3 linked regions of the Homo sapiens genome follow. The protein of the gene in region 2 interacts with the protein of the main gene of each other region in a pairwise test. Each region holds a gene or a part of one and is shown on either strand. Other genes may lie near its edges. The genes, in order: ZDHHC17, RAB39B and RUFY1.

Region 1 (3,654 bases), on a different chromosome or scaffold from region 2:
TGAGACAGGGTCTCACTCTGTCATCCAGGCCGAAGTGCAGTGGCATGATCTCGGCTCACTGCAGCCTCAACCTCCTGGGTTCAAGCAATCCTCCTGCCTCAGCCTCCTAAGTAGCTGGGACTACAGGCATGCATCACCACACCCAGCTAATTCTTTTATTTTTTTGTAGAGACAGGGATCCCACTGCTTCCCAGGCTGGTCTGGAATTGCTAGGCTCAAGCGATCCTCCCACCTCAGCCTCCCAAAGTGCTGGGATTTACAGGCACAAGCCACCGCACTCAGCCAGAAGTATATTTTACCTTATTAATGTATACTAAGCAAAAGAATAGACTGAATAAAAGAAAATTTCAAAGAGAAGGACTTTTATGGAAATGTAGTTTTATTATTTCAAGTAAAAAGGTTACTAAAAGAAGTGGCCTTAGAGCAACTGCTAAAAATGAATCCTCCCCTAGTTCCTTTAGTAACAAGGAAGAACTGATAGTTAACTCTAATAAAGTTTTTCTACTATATTGTAAAAAATAAGTAAAAAATAAATTGTATTTTGACCTATTCATGTATACAGCAAAGTACATATAAGGATTATGGGCTTGGGAGTCAGAGTTTAGGTTCTAATATAAACTATGCCAACTTTCTAATGATGTGAACCTGAGTAAACTACTTCACCTCTCTTGAATCTGTTTCCTAATCTGTAAACAGCTCAACATATACACTTTGCAGAACTACTGTGAAAAGTAAATGAACAAAACTTGGAAGCAATAAGACGTCCTTCAGTGGGTGAATGGATTTGATACACCCAGAAAATAAAATATTATTCAGCACTAAAAAGAAACGAGCTATGAAGCCATGAAAAGACATGGAGGAACTTTAAATGAATATTACTAAGTCAAAGAAGCCAATCCAAAAGGCAACATACTGCATGATTCCAACTATAAGATACTCTGGAAAAAACAAAACTAAAGAGACAGTAAAAAAAATCAGGGATTGGTGGGAAGGACATATGAACAGGCAGAACAAAGATTTTTAAGGCCATGGAACTATTCTACATGACAACATAATGGCGGACACACATTACTCTTACAAGTGTTAAGAACCTCGCCGGGTGCAGTGGCTGACACCTGTAAGCCCAGTACTTTGAGACGTCGAGGCAGACAGATCACCTGAGGTCAGGAGTTCAAGACCAGCCTGGCCAACATGGTGAAATCCCGTCTCTACTAAAAATACAAAAAATGAGCAGGGCGTGGTGGCACGTGCTTGTAGAGGTACTCGGGAGGGAGGCTGAGGCAGGAGAATTGCTTGAACCCAGGAGGCGAAGTTGCAGTGAGCCAAGAATCACGCCATTGCACTCCAGCCTGGGCAACAAGAGCAAAACTCCATCCCTCTCCCAAAGAAACAAAAACAAGCGTTAAGGCCGGGCGCGGTGGCTCACGCCTGTAATCCCAGCACTTTGGGAGGCCGAGGCGGGTGGATCACGAGGTCAGGAGATTGAGACCATCCTGGGTAACATAGTGAAACCCTGTCTCTACTAAAAAAAAAAAAAAAAATACAAAAGTTAGCTGGGCATGGTGGCACGTGCTTGTAATCCCAGCTACTCAGGAGGCTGAGGCAGAAGAACTGCTTGAACCTGGGAGGCAGAGGTTGTAGTGAGCTGAGATTGTATCACTGCACTCCAGCCTGGCGACAAAGCTAGACTCCGTCTCAAAAAAAAAAAAAAAAAACAAGTGTTAAGAACCATAGAATACACAACACGAAGAGTGAGCCCTAATGTAAACTATGGCCTTTGGGTGATAATGATGCATCAATGTAGGTTCATCTACCATAACAAGTGTACCACGCTAGTGTAGAATGTCCATACTGAGGGAGGTTATGCATGTGTACAGGCAGGGAGCATATGGGAACTCTTCGTACTTTCTGCTCAATTTTGCTACCAATATAAAACTGCTCTTAAAAAATTAAGTCTGTTCAAAAAATTCAAAAACAAAACACAAATGAGACCATTTGTAACCACAGCTAGCTAGTGCCTAGCAAATCCAACTCTATCATCTCTATCATACTGTATTGTGCTATAAAAACAGGCAACCTGGATTACTACTTAACCTCTCTATACCTCTGTTTCCTCATTTGTAAAATAGGTATAAAAAGCTGTGAGGATTAAATGAATGAATATACATGCAAAATTGTTTAGGATAGTGCCTAGCTCATACTTATAATTTGCTGGCATCTATGTCCCGGCTACATGGAAGAAAGAAGCTGGTCTGCATTTGGAGAAAATGAAGCTGAAAGGGAGAGAGGAGGAGAGATAAGAGAGTTTTGGTGGCATTCTCAGCTCAGGTTCCAGTTGTGTTTGATTTCAACTGCATCCTTGCATCCTGAGTTTAGGTTATCTGAGACAGTAAATTCCCCTTTTTGCCCAACTATGTTTCAGACAAGATTGTTGACATCTGCAACAAGAGGATCCTTACACAACAAGAAACTTCTGTCTTCAACTCAAAGAACTTTTTTTTTTTTCATGAGAATAGGGATAGTTTTGGTAACCACCAGTTTTGTTCATACCTCATTAAATCCTTCAAAAATTAATGAGTATTCATAATTGAAAAATTATTCTTAAAAACTAAACAAGGGTAGGGTATACTAACATCTCAATCAGAAGTAATTTTTCACTTCATTTTTTTCTAGAATACAACAACTGATAAAAATGCAAGCCATCTGACATATATACACAAAAAATGTCTCAGGTACTGTTAATGTTATAATCTTCATATCCCTAACAGTATCACCGATAATCAGAAAGATGATCCTAGGACACTATAATGTTCTAATTTATCAAAGAAAGATTCTATTATGTTTAGTATGTATTAACCCTAGAAAATAATTTGGCAAATTTGCAACAGGAATTGAAACAAAAACAAAAAAGTATTGTTTAATTCTCTGTAACTCAGGATACTAAGTTCACAGTATCTCATTCACAGAAGGCTGAAGTTTCACTGTACTTTCAAATTAGCTGCCTGTGGCTCCACTTTAAGAAAATTTTAAAAGAAGATATTTTATCCTAGGTCTAAATAATTATTCCACTGGGTCAAATTTTATGTATTTTATAAATATAATATTGTCTTGAATCATTATTTTTCAAATTCCAAAATTAAAATATTTGATTTTACTCTTAAATTATCCATCTGTAATAAAATCTATTCATAAAATAATACTATAATCAGATAATGCGCTGAAAGAGAATTTTACATAACCTTAATAGTGAAACATCTTTTCGGATTATGTAATTGTTGTGGGTTCTGTTAAAAGCAAACTGCATTTTTTTTTTTTTTTTTTTTTGAGATGGAGTTTTGCTCATTGCCCAGGCAGGATGGCACGATCTTAGCTCACAACCTCTGCCTCCCAGGTTCAAGCGATTCTCCTGCCTCAGCCTCCCGAGTAGCTGGGATTACAGGCATGCACCCCCATGCCCGGCTAATTTTTTATTTTTAGTAGAGACGGGGTTTCTCCATGTTGGTCAGGCTGGTCTCGAACTCCCGACCTCAGGAGATCTGCCAGCCTCAGCCTCCCAAAGTGCCGCAATTACAGGCGTAAGCCACCAAGCCCGGCCAGCACACTGCATTTTAAGACACCTTAACTGTTCAATGCTGACTACCTTAACATACCCTT
Region 2 (3,911 bases):
AAGACTAAAGAGTAAGACTCTAGGTTGAGCTGTCAGCAATGACTTTTGGAGCCACGTCTCTTAAATCTATAAGAGAATTAATATAAATGTGATAAAGCTGTACAGAACTTAGGCTACCTATCTACTTATGCCCAGACTCAGAATCCATTATCTTTCCTTTTTTTTTTAACCCTCCCCCCACCCTCATGTGTACTATCAATCCTGGGAAATGTGCTGAACTATTGTGTTCTTATGTTGGTGCCACACTGTAAGTGATCCTGGCATAAAAAGCATGCCGTAGTAGGATTTGAAAAAGCTGAGGCAACTTAGCCTGGAAAAAAGAAGACTTTCCAGGGAACATAATAGTTGTAATCAACTACTTGGCAACAGAATTAAGACTCTTGATTAAAAATCATCATGATGAAGATTTAGGCTTGACAGAACCAACTTTTCTCAAAGTGGCATATGCTCACCAGGAAGTATTGAGGTCCCAGGGACTTTTGATATGATGGTCAGATAACTTTCAAAAATTATATTCTCTTTCTGGCTTTAAGGTAATGGTGAATACGATTGTGTATGGTATATGTCACATCTTATTGATATCCTTGGTAGTAGTTGCTACGCTGTAGTAACAGATTCTGGAAATAGCTATAACACACACTTGGAATCTCACAGTCACATAATCAATCATTTTACTAAATACAAGCATATTTTCATTCACATACAGCTAAATAAAGCATTTTTCACATTTCATTACAGTGCACAACAAAGTGAGGAAAAGTATACAGTACATTTTATTCTGAAATATGAGACAATCTAATCCAACATGCAGTTGTGGTCTTTGTTACAAGTTAGTTTATCTTTTCTTTACCTATGTAGTAAAATAGCTTCTAAAGCTTTATCCTTAGTATTATATTAACACCTGATTCTTTTCACACTTATTTTCTAAAACCCACTTATTGCAGTGACAATGGTACTGAATTCTACTAAAATGATTTTTAAATTTTCTAGAACTTATTTAAGCAATTAAGCTCAGCCACCTCTGCTGGATTTATGCTGAATATTTTTAAACCTGCCAGAAAATGCCAGGAGTGGGAATACTGTACATATAATAAATTTTAGTGAAGAAAATTGTAGGGAAGTTTTGTTTCTTTCCTTTTTTGAACTGACAGAATCCAGTCGACTCTCATTTACCCACTGGATAATCTTGCTTTCAGAATCTTCTAAACATAATTCAGTATAGCAGTTGATGAAATTTTGTGTTAATGAAATTTGCCATGTTTTGTTTGTCTTTTACAACCACGAAGGTGGCAATTTAATTACCCCACCTAAGCCAGCTCTTGTGAAATGAATATAGAGAAGATGATCAGTTCACTTGTAGTTAATGCTGTGAACTGATCCAAAGTGGTTTGCTCATCCAACTTGGGGCACAGGTGGCAGAATAGTCTTCCATAATTTTCATGATTTGGTTTCTTTATTCTGGCTAAAGCAAATTCCCAAAGTTTCAGATTCGGTCACATTCATACTGAAGTTCAATATTATATCTCAAAGCGATTTGCCATTCTTAGGCCTTCCTATCACAATGGATATGAGAAACCTGACTCTAGTCAGAATAGTTTTTTTTTTTAATTGTGAAAAGTATGGCTTTTGCCTAGCTGAACTGGCTACAATCCAAAAAGTAATTTAAAGCATCACCTCTCTTCAAGAAAATAATGGAAACTTCAAGCCAGCCATTCCAATTTGCTGATGCAGTTAGCTGTTTGTTCACCTGAGAATTAAGGGCTGACTCTCTTGGGTAGACAGGAACTCAGTGTACGTATATGGCAGACAGGTGGCCAAGGTCATTTTGGGGTGGGTATTTTATCCCTATCCCACTCCGCATTGCTGTACGTGGTTCCTTTCAATAAAAATCCACTGTGTCTCAGTGATAAGAACACTTATAGCCCACACAGTTCTAATGTCTTTTTAGTTGTGCAATTATTCACTTGTTTAAAGCCCTCTTGTCAATAATGCCTGAATGGGCTTTACCTTTGATTCCTTCCCATGTTCCCTCAGGATTATAGCTGAGTTGTAATCAATAAGGAAAACATATCCTAACATGTAGAGAACATTTATTTATAGTCATATCTCTTCCCAAGTAAACAAATTCATAATCATTTATTCATCTGACAGCAGTATGATGCAGTGAAAAGAGCTAGGAGTCACGAGTCCTTGACCCTGGCCAAGTGATTTTCATGGCTCTTAGTTTACTATTCTGTAAAATGGGGCAAAAACCTCGTAGGCCTGTTATGATGATCAAATAAGTAGCCCAAGTAACTGTAAGCTGTTTGTAAGGGTTACAGTGCCTCCTGTTCAGCAGGAGAGAGTGTTTGCCTCAGGGCTCTTTTCAGAGGCAGTCACTGTGTTGTCACTGTCACGTGCCTGAAGAAGCAAGCAGACTGTTTACTTCCAGATTGCAGGTGCCAAGGCATTGAAACCCCAGGCATGGTCAAAGGAAAAAGGGGGTATGGCATTTGGGTTATAGTGTCTCTTTCCTAGTTATAGGGTAATTTGCATGGGACAATTTGTTTCATACAGCTGGTAATTCTATCACAAGGGTGTTCATTTTCTGAAATGTGCTAATAACTGTGTCGATTGCCTTCCTTTCCATAGTCACATCATTTTTACTTGAACACCAGACCTTTTGGTCTGTGTTCCTCATTTTACAGAAAGCTGTTAAAAGCTAATTGGTACCTTTTAACCAAACCCAGCAAACACCTTTGGTGCAGGGTATTCTCACGGAATAAGTAGAGCTCATAATCTTTGTTTAGTTATGCTAATTGTCCCCATTGTGAAACTTTTTTCCCCTTTATGTATTTCTTTATGTTCATGGCCTATAAGTGAGCTCAAATACCAAGGAACAGTTGTCCTGTCTGTAGGTATGTTTTCCTGGGACTTAGCTTCCTAAACCCCAGGCCTTTAACATGTGGTCCACAAAGGGCTCATGGAGCAGCCACTGCCTAGCATGGGCCACAAAACAGTGCCTGGCCTGGCCCATGTCAGCAATTCAGTCCCTTGGTCACAGCACTCAGGCACCCCCATCCACCCGCACACGAGTCTGTCAGAGTCCCCCTGAGAGGGAGGCTCACTTGGTATCCAAATGGAGGTTGAGTTCTCATCAGTTACACAAAGATTCTATTTATTTCTCTTACTTTTCAGTTCAAGTAGGAGAGCATGTTTTGGAAATAAAAGAACTGACTAGCACAAACATCTCCTCTCTGATTTGACAACCTCTTCTGAAGAGTGAACCACATTTGGTACAAATCCACTCTTCACCCCTTCCCAGCCCTCCTGGATTGTAATCTCCCCCCTTTTAACCAGCTCATATATGTCTCTTGTCAGGTCTGTGAAGGCTTTCTCCACATTAATGGCATCTCGGGCTGACGTTTCAATGTACTTCATGCCGTATGCAGCAGCCAGTTTCTCGGCCTCGTGGCGAGTCACTTGCCTCTGTGTATCCAGGTCACACTTGTGACCCACCAGAACAAATACAATTTGGTAGGGCTGAACGTGTACTTTGGTCTCTTCTAACCACTCATGGACATTCTGGAAGGACCTGCGGTTGGTAATGTCAAATAAGAGAAGACCACCTACTGAGTTCCTGTAGTAGGCGCGAGTGATGGATCTAAAACACAAGAAAGAAGTAAAGAGTAAAGGCTGTGCCCAAACTTCTGCATGTCAATGAACTCAGTATATTCAAGTGTTCCTGGTTAGTGACACAGTCCTTTAATAAAAATGATTTTCTTTTTTTTTAAAAAAACAAAGGAATACAAATGGCATTCCATACTACTACTAATATGTGAGTTTCCAATTGGGCCAAACTTTGAGATGGGCATCTTCTAGAAACGAATGTTCATGAACTTTTAGGCATTTTCCATGGATTCAGCACTGGA
Region 3 (3,654 bases), on a different chromosome or scaffold from region 2:
AACAGTTGAGAAATTTTCTTAATATGATTAGGTTGCAGGTCAGGTAATTTTCAATTATTTGCTTTGAATGAAAATAAGGGAACAAAAAATAATTTTTGGCTTTAGATCAGTGTGATTTGGGGCATATAACTTGGAAAGAGTTCAAAGATGACCAACATTACTAAAACAAACAAACAAAAAACAGGACTAAAACTGATGCTGAATTCTATCACGCTTTAGCAGTAAATCATATATATTCATCTACAGATATATGCTAATGACAAAAACCAACACCATTCATCTCATTTAGAGATGCAATTCATTGGCTGGGCGTGGTGGCTCACGCCTGTAATCCCAGCACTTTGGGAGGCTGAGGCAGGCAGATCACCTGAGGTCAGGAGTTCGAGATCAGCCTGGCCAACATGGTAAAACCCGTCTCTACTAAAAATACAAAACTTAGCTGGGCGTGCTGGCGTGCACCTGTAGTCCCAGCTACTGGGGAGGCTGAGGTGGGAGGATCACTTGAACTCGGGAGGCGGAGGTTGCAGTGAGCCGAGATTGCGCCACTGCATTCCAGGCTGGGCAACAGAGTGAGACCCTTCTCAAAAAAAAAAAACGCAATTCAAGAAAAATTTATGTATAATTCTTTATAAAAATTATATTTATGTTCCTGTTACCAATGTAGCATTACTAATAAACTTAATGATAATTCACTCCAGAAGAAAAATTTTTATACACTTAGAGCTTCAGTCACAATAAAAATTTATTAAACTTTAACTTATTTACATACTTTTTGCTGAGACTTATAAGATGACCAATAACACTTTTAAAAACATACAAATCTATTACATTAATTCTATGGCAGAAGTGGAATGGAAATCCAAGTTCAATGAATAAAAGGGAAAATGTAAAATTTTCAAATATTAAATAACTTGCTATTTTAAAGATGGATGGTGGTAATTATCAATTCATTAAGGTATTTACATACCACTTGATACATTTCAAAAAACAATGTAACAGTTTTATTTTAAAAAGTCAATATTTACACTATGCCAGAAAATGAATTCTGAGCAACTTTAAAATATGATGAATAATCTTATACGTTAACTTTAAAAGTTAAGTTTTCGGCTGGGAGCAGTGTCTCATGCCTGTAATCCCAGCACTTTGGGAGGCCGAGGTGGGCAGATCACTTGAGGTGAGCAGGTCACTTGAGGTCAGGAGTTTGAGACCAGCCTGGCCAACATGGTGAAACCCTGTCTCTACTAAAAATCCAAAAAATTGAGAAACACCCAAGAATGATCAATTAAAAAAAAAAAAAAATCCAAAAAATTACCTGGGCGTGGTGGTGCATGCTTGTAATCCCAGCTGCTTGGGAGGCTGAGGCAGGAGAATCGCTTGAACCTGGGAGGCGGAGGTTGCCGTGACCCGAGATCACGCCATTGCACTCCAGCCTGGGTGACGAGCAAAACGCCGGCTCAAAAAAAAAAAAAAAAAAAAAAAAAGTTGGGAGTTTTCTTAGGGGGTTACATGAGCAAAAAATGTTAAGACCAGTGTTCCAGGCAATCAGCGCTGGGTGGTGCTGTCTCTGGAAGTGCTGCTGGCAGTGTTTTGCCATCTCATGCATCCCCTACTATGGGGTTACCTGTACCCATTAGCACTCAAGTTAGAGGCATGGAAAATTAAACCTGGAACGATCTTTTAGCGGTTCTATCTCTCAATTTTACTGGCTTTGTGACCTTGGCCAAACTATTCACATCTCTAAGCTTCATTAATAATAGTTCAACATGACACAGAGAATATCGTGAAGTTCTACACCTACTGAATTGCCAAATAAATTGCCAGGCCAGTATCAGACTCCTGGGCTCAAGCAATCCTCTCTCGTTGGCCTTTCAAAGTACTGGGATTACAGGCATGAGCCACCTGCACCCCGCCAGCATGTTAATTCTTAAAACACGCATGTTTGTTACTCATCCTTTAGGAAGCATTACTCTAAAAAGCAAGATACATTCCTTGTGGGTACATCCTATTGCTTGCGTGAAAACAGCCAGTGTTGAGAGAGGAAAGCACATGTGCTATGTGCGGAAACTCTCAAAGATACAATAGTACTGGGGAAAATTTCTGGGAAGGAGGATTTAGTATTTGTCCTTTTTTTTTTTTGAGACAGAATTTTGCTCGTCACCCAGGCTGGAGTGCAGTGGCGTGATCTTGGCTCACTGCAACTTCTGCCTCCTGGTTTCAAGCAATTTTCCTGCCTCAGCCTCCCGAGCAGCTGGGATTACAGGCGTGCGCCACCACGCCCATCTAATTTTTGTACTTTTAGTGGAGACGGGGTTTCACCATGTTGGCCAGGCTGGTCTCAAACTCCTGACCTCAAATGATCCGCCCGCCTCGGCCTCCCAAAGTGCTGGGATTACAGGCATGAGCCACCATGCCTGTCCGAATGTTCTTTTGTATGGTTTGATTTTTAAAAATCATGTTCGCTTATTACCTTAAAAAAAAATCCCCCAAAACCAAACAGGACACCTATGGACAATACAATCACATACCAGACCCCACATGGGAAAACTTTTCTTTTCTTTTTTTTTTTGAGACAAAGTTTTGCTCTTGTTGCCCTAGCTGAAGTGCAATGCGGCGATCTTGGCTCACAGCAACCTCCACCCCCCAGGTTCAAGAGATTCTCCTGCCTCAGCCTCCTGAATAGCTGGGATTACACGCCTACGCCACCATGCCTGGCTAATTTTGTATTTTTAGTAGAGACGGGGTTTCTCCATGTTGGTCAGGCTGGTCTCAAACTCCCAACATCAGGTGATTCACCCACCTCGGTCTTCCAAAGTGCTGGGATTACAGGCATGAGCCACTGCACCCGACCGGGACAACATTTTAAAACAAGTATTCAAAATATTCCGCAGCATTTCCTTTAGCTTCTACCATTGAAAAAATATCATCCAGCAAGAGTGCTGCTCACATTCAATCTCTGCTCCTAAACTGCTCCCTCTGAAAGTCCTGCCTGTCCTCATTGCTTGTGTAGGCAGATCAGTGGGGAAAGAGAATGAGTCAGCCTTGGGCCTGGCCCTGGCTGAAGTGGTGTCACTGTCTTTCTCCCATCCTGTTTTTCTTGTGTCGCTGCAGAGCGAGCCGCCCTTGGCCCATTTCCTTTCCCACCTCTGCTCCTGTCCTACCTGATGGCTTCAAATCCCGGTGACCTTTGGGACCAGCCTCATGGCTCTACCCAGCAGTTCCCCAAATTTCATCTCTTTGTAAGCCATGGTCACCATTTTGCTAGATTGAGTGGTAGTTATTAATACTTTCCTTAAATTGAGTTAATTATTATTTTTTGAGATAGTCTCGTTCTGTTGCCCAGGCTGGACTGCAGTGGAATGGTCTCGGCTCACTGCAAACTCCGCCTCTTATGTTCAAGCAATTCTCCTGCCTCAGCCTCCTGAGTAGCTGGGATTACAGGTGCGTACCACCAAGCCCGGCTAATTTTTGTACTTTTTTTTTTAGTAGAGATAGGGTTTCACCATGTTGGCCAGGTTGGTCTCGAACTCCTGACCTCAGGTGATCTGCCTGCCTCGGCCTCCCAAAATGCTGGGATTACAGGTGTGAGCCACCATGCCCGGCCTAGTTTTTTAAATCCATATGGGATATATATATAGACATTTTGCAGTTGGTGAA

What was found.
Region 1: the proteins of RAB39B (region 2) and ZDHHC17 interact in binary tests that used the Homo sapiens proteins (3 or more experiments, as listed by UniProt).
Region 3: the proteins of RAB39B (region 2) and RUFY1 interact in binary tests that used the Homo sapiens proteins (3 or more experiments, as listed by UniProt).

Annotation. Positions count from the first base shown.
Region 1 is NC_000012.12:76,770,597-76,774,250, reverse strand, and holds part of ZDHHC17 (palmitoyltransferase ZDHHC17), read right to left. Parts: intron 1-3,654. UniProt on the Homo sapiens protein: Palmitoyltransferase that catalyzes the addition of palmitate onto various protein substrates and is involved in a variety of cellular processes.
Region 2 is NC_000023.11:155,257,587-155,261,497, forward strand, and holds the end of RAB39B (ras-related protein Rab-39B), read right to left. Parts: intron 3,644-3,911; coding exon 3,217-3,643; 3' UTR 649-3,216; downstream 1-648. UniProt on the Homo sapiens protein: The small GTPases Rab are key regulators of intracellular membrane trafficking, from the formation of transport vesicles to their fusion with membranes.
Region 3 is NC_000005.10:179,553,449-179,557,102, reverse strand, and holds part of RUFY1 (RUN and FYVE domain-containing protein 1), read right to left. Parts: intron 1,450-3,654; exon of another isoform or gene 1,313-1,449; intron 1-1,312. UniProt on the Homo sapiens protein: Activating adapter involved in cargo sorting from early/recycling endosomes. Regulates retrieval of proteins from endosomes to the trans-Golgi network through interaction with the dynein-dynactin complex.